Homo sapiens: one gene and its partners. The protein of the gene in region 1 purifies or fractionates together with the protein of each later gene. This does not show direct contact. Each region holds a gene or a part of one and is shown on either strand. Other genes may lie near its edges.

Region 1 (7,032 bases):
AAATATGCCTCATCAGGACATGAGAAGCAAGCATGGGAGCCTTAAGCTAGTGTGATTCCACCCTCAGATAACTGTGCACCCTCCAAACTGTTGTAAATACTGAAGGCTGTCTGGAGCATTCTGTTACCGAGGACCTGGCATTCGAGGGTACAGGAGAAAGTGACCTGAGGCCATTTTTAAGGTTATGTAAGGAGCAGGCTTTTCAGCGGTGGAAAGATTCTGCAGAAAAATACAGATTGGTGAGGCACGCAAGGGCTTCCTGCCAGTTCCTTTGCCTGCACATGGAGCCTTATGGCCTTTTAGTAGGCAAGGATTTTGATCAGTATTCTTCAGAAATATCTTGTCTTTAAATAATACAATTTTAATGAAAAATCCTCTGGGAAAAACCTCACTTGAAAACATGCTTATAAAGTAATATTAAAAGGTCAAAGTTTATTTCAATGATAGATACTAAGGCCCTTAAATTTTTATTTTATTAGAAGTGGACAGGATATTTTGGCAAAAGTGTTTTTAACCCTCGCTTCATAATGGAGGGTATCTAGTTCCGAATCTTGACCGTGCTGAGAGAGTTGTTTCTAGAGTAACTTCTTAATTCACTAGATGTCTGGAACTGGAGAACGTTTGTCTGCAAGAATCTTAAAGCTTTTACATTGATTACACACCTGGTTTAACTTTTTGTTTTCTCTTTATTTCTTCATCAGCACCACTCACAGTTTCCTTTTTGGAGCACTGGCTGAATTGCTGGACAATGCAAGGTAAGGTTTATCTGTAAACAACAGTTACTGAGGGAATTTCATGACATAACTCTTGTCTAATTACATGGGAAGATAAAAAGATCATGTCATATTTTCCCATCTGGAATGTTTTGTGACTTGATTTCCTATAAAATCAAGGTGTTCTAGGAAAAAGGATAGTTGAGAGAAATAATTATTCACCTTTATTTAATTTTAATTTATGATCAAACTTGAAGTCTGTTTTTATGTTAATAACCATTTAATTGTACATATTCATTTAGATATTTTTTGAATTATATGTCAGTGTATACTTGTCTTGAGAATTTACACATGTATTTGGGCATTTATTGAAGTCTGCGTAGAAGCAAATTGTATAGTTAAGAAAATAGCTAACTTATTGATCTCTTACTATATATCAGACATACATAAGCACTTTATATATGAGCATTATGTCATGCATCCTTATATCTACACTCTGAGATGGGAATTAATATCCTAGTTCTACATGTGTGGAAATTGATGCATAGAGAGATTAGATGATTTATTCAAAGTCACATAATTCATATTTGGCAGAGCTGGCATTCAAATTTGGGCAGTCTGGCTGCAGAACCTCACTGTCGTATTTTACTGTCTCTAATAAATGTATTAATGATTAAGGAACCCGTTAAACAGTTTAAGTTCTGCTCAGTAGTGTATTTGTGGGAGCTTGTGAGGGGCTTCATTTTTTTTTTTTTCAGTTAAATTGAATAAAGCATTTGACGTGTTTTATATTGGTATTCCCCATAACAGAAGATTTTTTCCTACCTTTTGCTTAGAAAGCAAAGTCCATCCAGGAAGTAATGTGCAGTTGTTAGATCAAGGATCTCAGTAGGAGCCTAAATTCCCTGCCACTGGTTGATAACAGTGTTTTAGCTTTTTTTGCATTTGTTCCCCATTTTTTGCCTTAGATGGGAGATGACCCTTCTGAGAGTGTGACCACAAAGTGTAGTCAATTAACCAGCCATCCAGAAATTCCTGCCCTGCACTAAGTAGAAAGTCGTTATCTCCTCCTTTTAGGAAACTCTCTCTGTTGAGCTAATGGAATCATAAAAAGGGAGGGAAGTAGAGAAAAAGAATAAAGTCTTGTTCAGAGCCATGAACTCAGCTTGGAAGGAGCTAATAAGGATGAAGCCAAGAAAGATAAACACTTTTGATTAGCTTCCCTAAAGGAGCTTAGGGTTGCTACTGTTGCTGCTGCTCAAAGCTTGGAAGCAAGGCTCCTCCTATGTCATCGGTCCTGCCTCCTACTGAATGGGCCCACTTTCAGCAACTTGACATCTGCAAGTCTGAAAGAACACATTTATCTATTTTTCCAACTGTCTTTTCTCCTTTGAAGTTGTTTCTTTCATTCATTCAACAAAGGAGGACAAGTAAAATCAGAATGTGGAAGAAGTAGAATAAAAGAAACATTTTATGTAGTAGAGGTTGATTGGGAAAGAAAGATTGACTTCAGACTCAGGGGACTGAGAGAAATGTGATCGATAAACTAATTCTTAGAGCAGCATTTGTAAGCTGGCAGCCCCTTGACCAGGTCCAGCCTGTCTTATGTGTGTTTGGCTTATAGTGAAAGTTTGCACAGTGTTTATAAAGAAAAGGAAGGGAGAAAAAAGGAATTGTTTATAAGGTTTAAGATATTGGAGATACCAAATAAAAAATTTGGGCCCTCTGCCTTCCTTGAAAGATTAGGAGAAGTAGCAACCTCAAGGCCACATTCCTCCACGGGATCAGGGGCTGGAGGTGAGTAGCAGGTGCTCTCTTGGGACCAGCCCATGCCTTCAGCTTTGCCTCATTTCCAGTTTTCCCCCGTGGACAGCCTCAACCCTTCAGTCCCTCTTTCTTCATGGACGTTTGAGTTTTCCACCATTGCTTAGATGCTAGTAGTTGACATCAAAAGAAGCTATTTAACAGACTTAAGATACTGAGTTGGTCTTACGAAGGAGAACTTTATGAAGTCCCCATGTTATTCTAAGAAATTCTTTTATATCATTGTATTCAATATTTTAATGATTTCCTGTAGTTTTAAAAATTAGAACTGAAAGATATTAAAAGAATATTGTAGAGAGAGAAGAAGAATGTGTGGTGATATAGGAAGGATTTGTTAGGGTCCTCTTCCTAATACAATAGCTCTTCAGAAAGGAAGTATCCTGGGCTAAAGAACAAAGATTATTATAAAATGTCTTAATATATGATAAAGGTGAATTATTTTATGCCTTAATCCGTGGAAGTGCTGCATGAAAAAACTACCTCTTTAAAAACTTACATTTCAGTACAGTGGCATTTATTAAACATTTATTGTGTACATGGTACTTTGTATAATGCATGATTATATAATGGAGATATTGATACCTATGTGTTATGGAACTATGGTAAGGATCGGAAGAGAATTTTCAAAAATACACCATTCAGTGCTTACTTGATACATGGGAGGTGCTCAAGAAATGGCAGTGGTAACTCCAGAGTGTCTATATAGGGAGGGCTGAGAAGCAGCAATTGGCTAGAGGAAGGAGCTATATGGGACTAACTTCTAGGCCTGTGGAGCAAGTACAGTGTACCTACTCAGATTTGTCTGGGAGTTTTGGGTTTAGAACTGATGGAACTTTGGAGAGACGCTCAGGTTTCCCCACCAGAGTTACATAGTTGCTGTTGTTGCACTGAGCTTCCTTTTAGACTCCTCCCTGCCTTAACTTACCTTCTTCCTCATCAGCTAAGTCTTCCTTGCCTATGCCTTCCTCCTTTCTCTCACACCCTCGATATTGAAGCCAGAGTCTTCTGGCCTTTTCTTCTTTTCTATTAAAAATTTTACTTTTAAAAATAATTGTAAAAAAATACAAAAATAATATCTGTGAATTTTAGAAAATGGAGAATTTTTTTTAAAACAGTCTTCATCAGTACTCTCATCACCTAGAAGAGGAGTCAGCATCCTTTTCTGTAAAAGACCAGATGGCAAATATTTTCACCTCTGTGGGATACGGGGTCTCCTTTGAAACTACTCAACTCTGCCACTGTAGTGCTGAGGCAACCTTAGATACTATGTAATGAATGGGCATGATTGTGTTCCAATAACACTTTATTTACAAACAGTTGATGGGCCATTTTGGTCCGTGGCTATAGTTTTCCAACCTCTAACAAAGAGAAAACTCCTATTAACATGTTGATTTCTTTCCTTCCATGTATGTTCTTTAAAATGTCTTCTTATAGTACACTATTACCTAGTAATTTGATTTTTCTTTTTTTTTTGAACTAAAATATGAAAAACATTCCATGACTTCTGGATTATTTGCCAGCCAGCTTTTTTTGTTTTTTTTTTTTTTTTTTAAATTATATCCATTTTGTTAGTTTTTTGTGTAATTCCCACTAAATTCCATCTCTTCTTTCACATTTCTGAGTTGCAGTCTTTTTCATATTCTCAAATTATGACTAATCATAGGTCTTATGATATAATAGCACGGTGAAACGTTTTAGAAATTGATTTTGAAGCAATTTAAGTGGATTTTTGTATTGTTTGATATCTGACAATAGGTTATACCTTATGTAAGCAATTCATTTCATATTGAAGAAATAATATTTTTGTATTGTTTCCAGAGATGCAGGGGCTGAAAGACTTGATGTCTTTTCAGGTGAGCAGATTTGCTTTCTTCTTTTATTTTCTTCTAATGGAAAGACTGTAGTTATTTTGCTTGTATTTTATTTCATGAAATAAAACCACATTCTATAGAATTTTAATGTAATCTAAGTGCTTTGTGGGTACAGTGACCCTGTGGGGAGCCAGGGTGAGGAGAGTATACTCTGAGAGTCAAATTGTGTGCTAAAGGACCCATTTACAAAATTAGGTCTTCCAGAGTTTTGTGAATGTATCAGAGTGATTTGGAGCACTCAATTTGCCTGCCATGAGAAACAGTTTTATTTTTAAAAAGTATATTAAATTAACGGTTATTCATAATTAAGCATACATCATTCCCAACTTAGTAGTTTCAAAGTGTGTACGTGAATGTGCGGTATGAGGGCTAGAAAATCCAAACCAAATCTGTTTTCTTTGCTGACTTTATTCGTAGTCATCAAGTATTTATTGCACTCACTAGTTATCTCATTAGACTATGATGCTAATGAAGTTAGGTTCTGTGATCCAGCTCTGTAGAGTAATGCCCAGGTAGTCACGCAGCATCCCTACCACATTTCTGTCAGCTGTTCTGCAATATTGGCTACTGGTCACGGGTGAGAGGATATGCTCCATGATCTAAATCCATATCTCTGTTTAAAAAGCACCTCAGTTAACTGAGTGTTCTGAGTCAGAGGAGTGCTTACGCTTCATGAGAGAGATAGACGTGGACCTCTTGAGATAACTGAGGAAACAATAAATGACACTCTTCATCTCCTTCTCCTCTCCAGGTCCTGAAAAACTTGAGAAATAGAAAAAGAGTCAGCCTTTATTGCTGATAAATGTTAGGCTGGAGTATGTAGCTTAGTGTGAGAGAGCAAATGGACTTGCAGGTCAGACCCCGGGATCACGTGGACTCACCCGCCCAGTGGAGTTGGGCTTCCTCTGAAACTCTTTTGCCCTGGGACAAGGGATCAGGACTCACGCTCTCTGCAGGCAGCTCTCTCCTAGGAGGAAAATGCAGGGTCAGAACTGAGCCTCCCCAGTTTATTCTTCCCTAAGTGACCAGTAGGTGAGTGAGCTAACCTCCACAGGGGAAAAGTGAGTGAAGGCACAGAATAGGGCCTTTCTAGTGAGAAAAAGTCATCTTCCCTTCCATATCCAATAGAGTAAAATAAGATGAACACTCTTGCATAGGAGAGACTCAGAGTATGGTGGGAACACAGGGAAAGAAGAAATTATGCCTCATATTAAGGGGCTAGAGCTTGAAATATGAATGTGATTTTTGTCAGATACTCCAGGAAGAAAAGAATATTCCTGTCTAGGTAATAATTATGAGAAAACAAATGGAGATAGGCTAGTTCACAGATTCATTAATTTATTCAGTAATAATTTGTTGTCTATTATTCTAGGTACTGGGGATAGTGCACTGAGAAAAATGTTGAGGTCTTTGTTCCCCTGGAACATATATCCTAATGGGGAGAGATAGACAATACAGAAATGAACAAATATGTAATATACAAGGCAATGATAAGTGCTAAAAGGGAAAAAAATAAAGCAGGATAAGAGAACAGAGAGCCATGGAAGGGGTATACAGCTTTTCATGGGTGGTCTAAGAGGGTTTCTTTAAATAGCTAACACACAAGCAAAGACCTGAATGATGAAAGGGAGGGAGCCACACAGATGTCTGGTGAAAAAGCACTCAGGGAACAATGCTGAGGCTCGGTTGACTCGCACTAAGTGTCAGAACCAAATGAATGAGCATCTTCAATACCATACCAAGGTTTTTTCTGCAGTCAGTGGACCACTGAAGAACTTTGAGCAGTGTCAGTTTTCTAAGTAGACATGTGGTCTTTTTTTTTTTTTTTTGTGAGACGGAGTCTCGCTCTGTCGCCCAGGCTGGAGTGCAGTGGCGCGAGCTCGGCTCACTGCAAGCTCTGCCTCCCAGGTTCACACCATTCTCCTGCCTCAGCCTACCGAGTAGCTGGGACTACATGTGCCCGCCACCATGCCCGGCTAATTTTTTTTTGTATTTTTAGTAGAGCCGGGGTTTCACCATGTTAGCCAGGATGGTCTTGATCTCCTGACCTTGTGATCCGCCCGCCTCGGCCTCGCAAAGTGCTGGCATTACAGGCTTGAGCCACCGCGCCTGGCTGAGCTCTTTTCTTTTTTAAAGAAAGATACTCATTCCAGAAATACCTTACAAGAGAGTCTGGAGAAGTATGAAAGCAAGGATAGCAGGGAGGTATGGCTATGGGAATTACCTAGGCAAGATTTCATGAGAATTATAATAGGGCAGTAGTACTAGAAATGGAGGAGGAGAGACAGATGTAAGCTGCCTTTCATTCAGAGCACATGCACAATTGATGGAGGATTGAGAAGACTTATCCATAGTCACAAAATATAACAAATGTAATCAGAATCCACGCATTATGTTCTTTGGGGTTTGTGACTGGAGACCAGCAGGGAATGAGAGTGTTTATTTCACCCTACTTTCTCTAAGTACTCAGTTTATCTTCATAAACAAACAAAATAAGATCTTGACCAAGTTGAGATTAAAGTGGCACTTCTCCTTTTTTTTCGAGATGGAGTCTCACTCTGTTGCCCAGGCTGGAGTGCAGTGGCACCATCTCGGCTCATTGCAACCTCCGCTTCCCAGGTTCA
Region 2 (6,102 bases), on another chromosome or scaffold:
CCTTGACAACCTTGGTTGTTATGGCAGCACATTTCAGACTACACAAAAATTTCCCAGGGAGGATTTCCCAGGGAGGAACTAACCTGGAGTAAGGGATGTGCTGCACCTCCAGGGAAGTGATCAATTGTACTAGGAAAGTTGTCTCAAAATGCAGGAGCTAGGCTAGTGTATGACATTATGTCTCAGAGAGGACGAGTTCCTCAAACTGCCCAAGGTGAATCACAACCTCATGCCGATTTTCAGAATTCAACCTTTCCTTTGTCCTTTCCACCTCTCTGATAGTACTAAAACCTGGATGCTATAACTCAACTACTAATTCCACATTTCATGCTTGACTTTTACTATCTTTATAATCAACACTCTCCACCATAGTCTTACCTTTAATGCCTTTCATGAAATGGGATAAAATGCTACCACTAGTGGGTGTCAGAACCACCTGAACTGAATATTAATTTTCCAGATGTTTGGATTAACATTGGTCCTCCTTCCCTAATAAGGACAGAGGTGCAAAAGAACCTTCATATGAAGTGGCTTTGAATCTTGAATATTCATGTTTATTGTCCATTTTTTACTTCAGAATGACTGGTGTTTTTAGGAGTGGGTGGAGCTTGGAAATTGAGAAAGGGAAGAGAACAAGGCAGGGACCAAACAGGGACATGGCCAAGACAAGACAGTTGTACAGCTGACTCTCAGGCCTTCGTGGAAACCATATGGCAGGAAGGCTTTGGGGGCATTTACCCTTTGCCAGCTAGACTCCAGTCCTGCACTGGATTCAACACTGGATCCCATCTGATGGAAACTTGGAGAAGCCCATGCATGACTCAGCGTTCTCCAGTGGGGAGACTGCCCATGTTGCTGACTCTGCCTTGCTTTGCAGGCAGAAGCAAGAGACTGAAGACTTTTTCTCTAGAATAAATAAGCCCAATTACTTGAAAATCAAGTAGTACAATAAACCTAGCCAAAAGTGGTCTCTCCTAAATCAGCTTAGGTATATGCCTTCTCCAGGAAGATCTCCCTTATTTGCTGACCCCACCTCTACACCGCTAAGCTGGGTTAGGCACTTCATGCTTTGTTCTCTCAGCTCCTAGCCAATAGCCCTATCACACACAGCACTTACGCAGTAGGATCTGTTTCAGTACCTCAGTAAAGGAGAGCTGCTTGTTTGTGCCTTTGGCAGTCTGCTGAAACCTATGAACCAATTCTTAAATAATGTTTTTCAATGCATAAAATACATAAAATTACAAAAAAAAACAATTATAATGAAATGTGTAGTTTTGGTTTTCTGAGCTGGGGATGTTGCCCTGTTACCTGGGCTAGAGTACAGTGGCAAAGTCATAGCTCACTACAGCCTTGAACTCCTAGGCCCAAGCAAAATCCTCTTGCCTCAGCATCCTGAGTAATTGTGTCTACAAGTGCGAGCCACAAGACTTGACTAATTTTTACATTTTTTTATAGAGATGGGGTCTGGCTATGTTGACCAGGCTAGTCTTAAACTCTTGGCCTCAAGCAATTCTGCCTCAGCTTCTGAAAGTGCTGGGATTCTAGGTGTGAGCCACCATGCCTGGCTGAAATATGTATTTCTTAACTCCAGACATCTGGAGTATGAATTCCTTAAGTGCAAGGACTATGTCTTCATCTCTCTACTGTCAGTGCCTAGCACAAAGCCTGGCACATAGATGGTTCTTAAAAATGTTTATTCAATGCATGAACAGAAAGACAAATGCCTACTACCAAGTCAGCCTAAGGTTCATTGCAACTGCTTATGCACATACCAATGGCTTGCATATGTCTCACCCCATCTAGGATCATCTAGACCAGGGCTGTAAGGGAACCTACATTCAACAACAGGTGCCATAATATCTAACAATAATGACAGGCTATTGGAAGACCAGGAAAACAACAAAGCTCATGTATTTCACCAGCTGGAAAATTCATCTAGTAAACAGGCTGTTTGAGGAAATCTCTTGACATTGGAAGCATGATGCACACACGACCTTAAAACCCTACCAATAGCTCTGATGGAGGAAAGAAGGGAACCTGAGCTAGCACGTTGGTATTCACGAGGGCTCTTCTGTCCTGAATTGGTCCTCTCATCTCTGGGAAAGAGAAAAGTGTCCCTAAAAACCACAATAGGGATGAGATGTGCCTTCCTAGATTCAAGTAGATTCAGTCTGAGACAGCAATTTTGTTTTTATGTACCAACAGAAAACCTAAACAAGCAGGAAATAAAAGCTACTTCCCTCACTAAAGATATATTAAGGGCCAAATATTTGTTCTAAATTGATTGCTAAGTCTATTAGATATTTTGAAAAGAAAAATAAAACCCCAGACTATTTAAAAACTGAAATCTACAACTGTATGGAGTTCATAAATCTCATTCTTAAGAGTCACCTTCAGGCTGGGTGCGGTGGCTCATGCCTGTAATCCCAACACTTTGGGAGGCCAAGGCGGGCGGATCGCTTGAGGTCAGGAGTTCAAGACCAGCCTGGCCAACATGGCAAAACCCCGTCTCTACTAAAAATACAAAAATTACCCGGGCGTGGTGGTGGGAGCCTGTAATCCCAGCTACTCAGGAGGCTGAGGCAGGAGAATCACTTGAACCAAGGAGGCGGAGGTTGCAGTGAGCTGAGATCACACCATTGCACTCCAGCCTGGGCTACAGAGCAAGACTCCATCTCAAAAAGAAAAAAAAAAAAAAAACAGCAACCTTACCATGTTACAGGGTTTCTTTGACTACATACAGCCATCTGAGGGATGGAGAATGCAACTTTTACTTGCTCGATGGGGTTTCCAACATCTGTTGGAAGAAACATGGCTTCTGAAAGGTGCCTTCTTAAAAATAAAAAAGAAAAAAAAAAACTACAGGTCCAAGTTTTGTTTTTAATAAAAATATTCCTCCCACTCTTAAGGTGTGTGCTTTCTTTTTTGACCTATTTTTCCTTAAATTTGTCTGTAGTTTCCCTGTATCTCTATATTTTTCCTAGTGCAGTAAACAATGCAATCAAAGAAATAAAAACCAGGGTCCACTCTTGCCCCAAACACTGAAGAGGGTCAAAGAGAAGAAATCGCAGCACGGAAAATGGCCCAGCTCTAAATATACAAACAACATTAAAAACAAAACAAAACAAAATAACCCCCCCCCCCAAAGCATTATTATTGACATTCCTGGTACATTTCCTATAATATAATGTTGCAGACAATGCTTCTTTCCCAGGGAGTCCAGCTCACTCAAGAGACATCTAGTTGGTGCCTCAGGAAAGCCTGGGGGTGTTGAGTCCTCTCTGCCAAGCCTAAAGCTTTTTATGATCTCAGTATCTCACAGAAACATCTGTGGTATAAATGAATCTAAAAGGGGACGAAGGCAGGCAGGCACCTGTCACTGTTCTCCAAATCAGCCAAAAAGCTGAAGAGCGTGGGTTCTAGGAGACAGATGCCATTAAGAGTTGAGGGATGGAGGGCAGAACAAGAGGAAGCACCAAATGAGTGGCTGCTTTGGGTTCCAAAGCCAAAAAAATGGCCCCACCAAAAAAGGCAGCTGGTTTCATTGAGGAACTCCCTGCTCTTGGAGCCATGCAATGAAAATGATGGCCTTGGAGCCCCATCCCTGTGACAGCCACAGTCTAAGAACCAGAGCCATTTACATCACATTGCACAGTTTCAAATGAATGGACTGGTCCTAGCTTAGGAGGGTGAGTGCTTTGACAAAGTGTGGAACAAGGTAAGCTATTACCTTGAACCCCAAAGCACAGCTGCAGCATCCTTGGCTTTCCATTTCTTTCTTTTTTTTTGAGACGGAGTTTCACTCCTCGCCCAGGCTAGAGTGCAATGGCATGATCTCAGCTCACTGCAACCTCCGCCTCCCAGGTTCAAGCAATTCTCCTGCCTCAGCCTCCCAAGTAGCTGGGATTACAGGCGCGTGCCACCATGCCCAGCTAATTTTTTTTTTTTGTATTTTCAGTAGAGACGGGGTTTCACCATGTTGGCCAGGCTGGCCTCAAACTCCTGACCTCAGGTGATTCACCCACCTCGGCCTCCCAAAGTGCTGGGATTACAGGCATGAGCCACCGCACCCGGCCTTGGCTTTCCATTTCTGCAAAACCACAGGCCACTGCTGCCACTTGCTCTGTGGAGATGTACCTTCCACTTATTACCACCTTCTTCTCAAAATGGCACTCACGGTACTAACTTTTGGAGATCTCCAGAGGCGTCAGTTGCACCTCTGGAAGTAAGATGATTTCCCTGCCCCATACTTGCCAAAGCACTTTTTTTTTTTTTTTTTTTTGAGATGGAGTCTCGCTCTTGTTGCCCAGGCTGGAGTGCAGTGGTGCGATCTTGGCTCACTGCAACCTCTGCCTTCCCAGGTTCAAGCGATTCTCCTGCCTTGGCCTCCTGAATAGCTGGGATTACAGGCTCCCGCCACCACACCCGGCTAATTTTTTTTTCGTATTTTTAGTAGATACGGGGTTTCACCATGTTGGCCAGGCTGGTCTCAAACTCCTGACCTCGTGATCCACCCGCCTCGGCCTCCCAAAGTGCTGGGATTGCAGGCGTGAGCCACCACGCCCGGCTAGCACTTCCCTTTTTAAGCTAGTGCTGGCATGCCACCTTCCCCTCAAAGCAGAGTCAACTTCCTTTTGTTTGAGAGTTTTGTACTGGCCTCTGTAGGCCCTTTTCAGGATACAAAATAAAGTGCCCTTCAGCATCCACATGCGAGTGGGTTGCCTTCCAGTGTCAGATCTGTGTTCCAGAGTTTGGTCAATGCATCTTTACAAGAATAAAACCACATGCCTACACACACAGACGAGCCTGGAAATGGCTTTCTGGACAGGGTTACTTGTTATCTTGACACTTCCCCTAAAAGAAATTACTTTCTTGGTGTAAGATGATTAGGACATTGAATGACCTACTCTCAACTTCTGGAAGGGCAGCTTGTTTTGTCCATTTTTCAATGAGGGAGTGGGAAGAACCCAACATTTTCAGTTACAACAATAAGATTTTGTTTTTTTTTTTTTAAAAAAGGGTCCTATGTGGAAATGAGTGGGACAATGATAAAAATAAACAAATAATTAAAATTCCAAATCAAAACATAACTCCTGGCCCTGAGATCCCCAGTTAATCCTCTAAGACCACAATCTCCACATTGTGAACTTGATGCTGGTGTTCTTCCATCTCAGCCACAACTTTCTCCTCAGTCCTCAGCTCTGTCTCCAAGATGACTGCTTTGCCCTCAGTATCTTCAGCTTCTGGGTCCGGGGCTGGATCAATCTCAATGATGGTCTGCCCATCCTCTGAGGTGCTTTCAACAGCCTGAATTGCCGAGGTTAGGCCGGACTCCATGGCCACCAATTCCACAGGGCTAACCATGGTGGTCATGTTGCCCAGTGTACTCCCATCCTGCATGGCAGTAGAGCTCAGCAGCGCCAAGCTAGATGAAGGGTGGATGGTCACTGTGTCTGGTGAGCTGCTCTTGGCAGAGGAGACCACTGTGGCATAGCGGAAGAGCTGAGGGCCAGAAGGCAGTGTGTGGACAGTCACAGGACTGGAGCCCTGGCTGAGGGTGGCCACTGGAATATTGCCCATGGAAAATGACTGACCCACTGGGGTGATGGTGATGGGTGAGATGACTGTGAACTGAGGCTGCTGGACAGGAGGAGAAGGGCTCAAGACAGTGGTGGAGGCTGGCCGCTGGAGCCGGGGCCTTTTTGGAGGCTTAGGAGTGCTCACAGGCATCAGTACCACATTTTGAACTGTCTGAGATTTCAGCCTGTGATCCTGGCCTTGCTTCTTCTGCTCCTCCAACTGGCGTTCCAAGTCTATGGAAAAAAAGAAAAGACTTTGTGTAGAGGGAAGTAAAATCTTGGGAGCATTAAACTGAGAGTCAGGAGACCTGGTGTCTCTGTCTGGTTTTGTTACTAAGTAGCTTCAGGCAAGTTGTGACATTGTTTTCTTTCTTGTGCTTATTTGGGGGGCAGAGTCTTGTTATGTTGCCTAGGCTGGAGGGTAGTGGCTATTCACAGGTGCTATCATTGCGCACTATAGCCTCGAACTTCTGGCCTCAAGCGATCCACCCACCTCACCTTCCCAAAGTGTTGGGATTACAGG
Region 3 (5,863 bases), on another chromosome or scaffold:
ATACATGCTAAGTGCCTGCTAGCAGTTGCTGGCCTTTCTGTAACACCTTCCACTTGGCTGCCCTCCCCACTGAGACATGTTGTAAACTACCCTGTTCTTTAATTCCATCACGTGCTCATTTTGTCTTTGTAGGTTCTTCATAGGAAGGGCCAGATGGCATTACTGTGGTCCTCTTCCTCCTTGTCTGGTAGAGTCGCCCTCCACATGAGGTAGCTGGGGCTGTCCAGAGAAGGATGCGTGGTACTGAGAGGGGCGGAGCAGCTGAGGGAACAAAGTCAGAGAGACCCAGGATGACAGAAGAACAATGGAAAATAGGGGCTTCCAACCCAGAGGGATCTCCTAGAACCACACGGTTCTCTGATACGTTATTTCCAAGTGAAGCCCACCCTCAATGTAAAGAAATGTTTCTGAATGGGTCAAAAAGCCATCAGAGCAAGACCAGCCTGGAAGCTCATTCTGTTCTGGGCTAATGTCTGCCTCGATGGTAACCCCTAGTCAGAAGCTCCGCAGGAAGCAATACCAAGAGCCACGCTCCAATTCCTGAATCTGCTTTATTTCTCTGCATAAGGAACCCTGAACAGGCAATTCAAATTAAAACAAAATAAATATATGAATATTCATGTAAAACTGTCCTTTCTAATGAACAATTATACACAATGTACAATTTCATGTTCACTGGGTGGATTTACAAAAATGTACCATTCCCAACTAAAAATGCACCAAAATGGTTTCATGCAAACTTATCAAAAGTGACCAAAAATATGGAGGGAAAAACCTGACTGAGAGCACTTCGTTTTTGTTGTTTTTGTACAATCACAGAAAAATAAAAACATCTAATTTCTTTGTTACATTTAGAGTAACTAAATGTGGCCATTGTTTATAATGTTGGTTTATGTTCTTATAACATCTATGTAGTTACCATAAAAGTATATCAACATCAAATCAGAAGTGAGCATTATTGAGGGAGAGAAGGGAGGGTGAGAGCACCCGCACGGTCAGTAGTCAGTGTCGGAGCCCTCGGCGTTGTCCACGTTTCTCGAGAGCATGTAGTTGTCCATGTCGATTGAGCGGCAGTTGTTGATGGCATAGCGCAGGCGCTCGGCCATGACCAGCTGGCTGGAGTACGGGGGCAGCCTCAGCTGGAAGAAGCAGGTCTGTGAGGTAGGCAGACTGTCGTAAGGCTGTGGAGAGAGACCCAGAGCCGTGACTGGGGACATCAGAGTGCCATAAGGGGGAGTGGGGCTGCCCATGACCTCTCCCTGCCTTCAAGATGGAATTAACATGGCCACATGGTTAAGTCAAGTGGACACAGAGACTGGGCCAGATAGAATGAGCTGAGGCCCTACTGCCCCGTGGCCCTCGAGGCTCTGGGTGAAGATGTTCCTTCTTGTCCTCACCTCCTCCAGTGCCTGTGTGTGTAAAGTGAGGAGAAGCTCTGACTGGCAGGATTGCTTGAGAGAATACACTACGCACAGCGCCTGGCACAGGATGAGAGTGTAGTAAGAGGGCACCTGTCCTTCATACCCATCCACCAAGAGGGTGCAGACTGGAAGCCAGCTGCAGGGATGCCCCCACAGAGCAGGTAGAATGGAAAGAACGACTGTGAGGTGCAGCTGGCCATGGGAGCCTCTTTGCCCCCTCTCCTCTCCCTGTCCTCATGTGCATTCTGCCTCCTTTGCAGGCGCCATGGCTGCCTCGCACAGCTCACATAAGGAAGGGGCAGTCAATTAAACTCCAGTCCATCCATTCAACTGACGGTGATGCATCATTTAAAATGATAATTATGATGACTGGCAGCAAAACAGAAAGGTGTTCAGGATACATTAGGAGGTTAAAGGCAGAAAAAATTCTAGATACATCATATAAAAATTTGTACAATTGAGGCAAAGACTATGAGGAATTTCACAAAGGTAAAAATAGCTACTACTGGAGAGACAGGATTATATACGTTCCCTATCCCTCCTTGCAAACATAACTATTTTCTAAACAATTTGTAATAATAGTAATGGCATTATAGTGTTTTTATAAATTTTTAAAACGTTTGCTTAAAAAAAAAAAAAAGAACCTGTCTTCTCTCACTCAACCTCCTCTTGAAATCAGCCCTCCTCCCCAGAGCCCACACCTAGGTAAGCCACATGTCCTGCTATGGGAGGTGGATGGCCCAGCAGCCCAAATGCACCAGAGCCAGTGATGACACAGCTCAACGCAGAAAAACTGAAAGCAGCAAGGAAGGGAGGTGCCACTAGGTGGCTCTGATGACCTAAATGTGAGTACTGTAGAAATGATCTAAAAGCCACAGAGGAACCGACCACGGTAGTCAGTTACTGATGCTGACAACCCTGAGACCGGAGATTAGTGGTGGATTAACTCCTAGAACGGCAGGAGTAGCCCAGGACAGATATAAGGCAAGGGTTGTTTCCAGAGCTGAGTAGAAATGAGCCATTTCCTCCTTCCTACTTCTCTCTGAAGCAACAAAACAGATTTACAACTTACAGTTCTTGGCAAGTCATGCAGAAAATTTATGGAAAGGCTCTTTTATAATCCTTCCTGCACGTGGCTTCTCCAGCAAGCCTAGCCCAGGAGCAGAGCAGCAGCCTGCAGCCTCAGGAGGCAGCACAGGGAGGAATAGCTTTGGCTACACCAGAAAGCCAGACACTTAAACTGGCAGGAAGGGCCTGTGTGTGAAGAGGCCCCACTTCCCTTACTGTTTTCTGAACAAACATCATGGGCCCTGCTCAGAGAACTGCCCAGCTCATGTGGGAGAGAGGGCTTGTGAAGAGTGGGGATGGAGACAGAGGGAGGAGAGGCACTCCTAACTGAATGCAGTAAGTTCTGGGTTTGAGGGCTGTACCCAGTGTTCAGGAGGTGGAGAGAAGGAGTCTGGCTAGGTCTGCCTTCAGCAATGGTAGGGGCACTCCTGGAAAGCATCTAGGAGGGGTTCTTGGAGGAGATGACTGGCATTGGGCTTATAGGATGAGTAAGTGCTTGCCAGAGATAGAAGGAAAGGGGTGTGAAGAAGGACTTACTAAAGCAGAGGGAACAGGTTACATAAAAGCACAGAATTTTAAAAACAGCCTGGTCTACTGGGGAGAAAGGCAAGCAGCCCATTATGACCAGAACATGAGAAGTATCAAGACGTCACATCAGAAAGTGGGGCAGAGGCCAGACTGTGGAAGTGTTTAAGGCAGCTAAGGTCATTGGCATTTATTTCGGAGTCAACAAAGGGGGTCTCTGAAAGGTCTAAAAGGAGGAGAGTGACATGGTCAGACAGGTGCTTAAGAAAGATGACTCTGGCAGCAGTGTGCTTTTCAGACTCTAAGCCCTCTTATTCCTAAGCCATCTGTCAAAATCACAGCTGGGCTGGGGCTCTGCAGCTGGGGCCTTTCATCAGATGGCAGAGATGCAGCCCTGCCTGCTCCACAAGGCACACAACACAAGTGGGCACAGAGGTTATCGTTGCTCCCCACATCTTTGGGTTCCTTCTGGGGCACACCCACCAGTTAATGGTTAATATTTTCATGAAAACAAACAAGGCCATGCCTCAGCACAGGAAGAGGCAGTATGATGATCCTTCTGCCAAGTTCAGCTTTAACTCAGGAAGATGCTGGAAGATTTAGGGAAGGTTGTTGGTTGTAGTATGCTCTCTTCATCCACTTAGGACTCTTCCCACTGAAGCTAAATGATATTTCTAAACAAATTTTACTGCTTGATTTTTTTCATTAATCTGGAAATTCTAAGTATTAATAAGCATGAATCGGCAGGCCTACTTGAGGGTCATAGTTTGTTTTCCCCAACATAAAAGCAACAAGGCGCAGAGGGCCAGGCGTGTTGGCTCACGCCTGTAATCCCAGCACTTTGGGAGGCCAACGTGACCAGATCACCTGAGGTCAGTAGTTCAAGACCAGCCTGGCCAACATGGTGAATCCCCGTCTCTACCAAAATATACAAAAAAATTAGCCAGGCGTGGTGGCACGCACCTGTAGTCCCAGCTACTGCGGAGGCTGAGGCAGGAGAACTGCTTGAAGCTAGGAAGCGGAGGTTGCAGTAAGCTAAAATCATGCCACTGCACTCCAGCCTGGGCCACAGAGTGAGACCCTGTCTCAACAAAAACAACAATGAAGCAATAAGGCAGACATTACAAAGGAAAAAAGAATAGCTTACTTACCCTATCAACCTTCATGATTTGAAATCTCTGAGAAATGTCAGCAGTGTTGGCTGGTAGTCGAGATCTTCCTGACACAAACCTCATGAAAAGCACCCGCTCCTCATTGGAGAACTCTTCCAGCGTGTGCCAGAACCACTGCACCAGCTGATGCTGCTCATCCACCTCACGGTACCGCACCACTTTCTTCAAGACTTCCACAGAGATCTCGGGCATCCCACACACCATCTGCTCCAGTTGTTTTGCTGTGAGGAGGGACAGCAGCGGCACAGGAACAATCCAGGACATCCCTTCTCGGACTGCAGCCACCTGCTCCCGGGAGAGGTTGCTCATTCAATGAGTGTGCGTGAACCTGGCACCCACCAAGGGCCCTGTGGGGCTAGGCGCCTCCTGATGCCTGCTCGTCCGCTCCCCAGACCCTCTACTTGTTTCTCAGACCGCCAGGCACGAGAGTCAGTCAAAAAGGCCCACCCTCCCTGCCTCTCAACCCTTGTTAGAGTGCCTCCCTGCTGTGGGATTCTTACACTCCTGGTTCCAGTTCAAGTCCAATTTAGGAGCCTGCCTTCCCTCTACCACAAAATCTCAGCCCACTGGGGCCTTCCCTGATGCCAGCCCCACTCACTCATATTCCTAATCATATGTGCCCATGTGCTGTCAAACTATGCATGTGTGGACACTTCATCTCATAAAGGTAAGAAGCTTTGGGGGCACTCAACTAGCTGCCTACTGTTTTTTAAATTTATATTTGTCTTTTGAAAATAATTATATCCTTTTTGTAAAAATTATTTGTGCTCATCGTAAAAAAAATCTGAAAAGTACAAAGAAGAAAGTAAAAATGGGAAGTCCTTCTTTAGGAAGGCAATAGAAGAGGCAATGAATTTAGTGAAGAGACTTGGGTTCTAACTCCCAGCTCTGCCAATTATTAACTCTCTTAATTTTTCCGTCTGAAAAAAGCAGATATTGCTGCTCTCATGTGGCTCTGATGAGAACTGTATATGAGTAACTACATGAAATTCTGTGTGACTGGGTAATTCTACCCTGCTCTGTTCTCTTAGCATCATAGTGCTGGGCACAGGCAAGTTGGGGAGTGCCAAGTAGGGTGCAACCAGGGGCTGCCTTGACAGCTTGTTTAGAAAAATGTCTCCTCCAATATTATACAGTAGTGCATACCCTACACACAGACTCACCACTGTTCAAGGTTTGTTTCATAAATACTTCTTTGCTCTTGGCCAACTCAAAACCATCTACCACCATTTAAAAAGTCTAAGAATCTGAATAGGGACCATACCTTAAGGAAGTGAGTAACTATGTGAGGTGATGGATATGTTAATTTGCTTCACTATAATAACCTTTTTACTATCTATATGCATATCCTATATTATCGTGTTGTACACCTTAAATATACATAATAAAATTTATTATATATATAAAAAAAAACTGGGCCAAGTACAATGGTTTGCCCTGTCATCCCAGCTACTTGGAAGGCTAAGGCAGGAGATCCCTTGAGCCCAACAGTTCAAAGCTGCAGTGAGTGCCACTGCACTCCAGCCTGGGTGACAGAGCAAGACCCTCTCTTAAAAAATAAAATAATAAAAAACTGGCACTAAGGTTGTCCCATAAGGATCAGAGATTGGCAGTAAAGGCAGTCTCTTCTGATAGTAAAGGTCAATACCCCACCAAAGTCTGCCAAACGAAAACAAA

What was found. The genes of interacting proteins can lie anywhere in the genome.
Region 2: the proteins of MORC1 (region 1) and GMEB1 purify together in Homo sapiens (affinity purification with mass spectrometry; 2 studies listed by BioGRID and IntAct, with this or other methods). This does not show direct contact.
Region 3: the proteins of MORC1 (region 1) and HERC1 purify together in Homo sapiens (affinity purification with mass spectrometry; 3 studies listed by BioGRID and IntAct, with this or other methods). This does not show direct contact.

What each region holds. Positions count from the first base shown.
Region 1 is NC_000003.12:109,108,107-109,115,138, reverse strand, and holds part of MORC1 (MORC family CW-type zinc finger protein 1), read left to right. Parts: intron 1-701; coding exon 702-755; intron 756-4,350; exon of another isoform or gene 4,351-4,355; coding exon 4,356-4,390; intron 4,391-4,798; exon of another isoform or gene 4,799-5,170; intron 5,171-5,289; exon of another isoform or gene 5,290-5,375; intron 5,376-7,032. UniProt on the Homo sapiens protein: Required for spermatogenesis. Essential for de novo DNA methylation and silencing of transposable elements in the male embryonic germ cells.
Region 2 is NC_000001.11:28,713,784-28,719,885, reverse strand, and holds the end of GMEB1 (glucocorticoid modulatory element-binding protein 1), read right to left. Parts: intron 5,814-6,102; coding exon 5,113-5,813; 3' UTR 533-5,112; downstream 1-532. UniProt on the Homo sapiens protein: Trans-acting factor that binds to glucocorticoid modulatory elements (GME) present in the TAT (tyrosine aminotransferase) promoter and increases sensitivity to low concentrations of glucocorticoids. Also binds to the transferrin receptor promoter.
Region 3 is NC_000015.10:63,608,086-63,613,948, forward strand, and holds the end of HERC1 (probable E3 ubiquitin-protein ligase HERC1), read right to left. Parts: intron 4,472-5,863; coding exon 4,166-4,471; intron 1,182-4,165; coding exon 996-1,181; 3' UTR 533-995; downstream 1-532. UniProt on the Homo sapiens protein: Involved in membrane trafficking via some guanine nucleotide exchange factor (GEF) activity and its ability to bind clathrin. Acts as a GEF for Arf and Rab, by exchanging bound GDP for free GTP.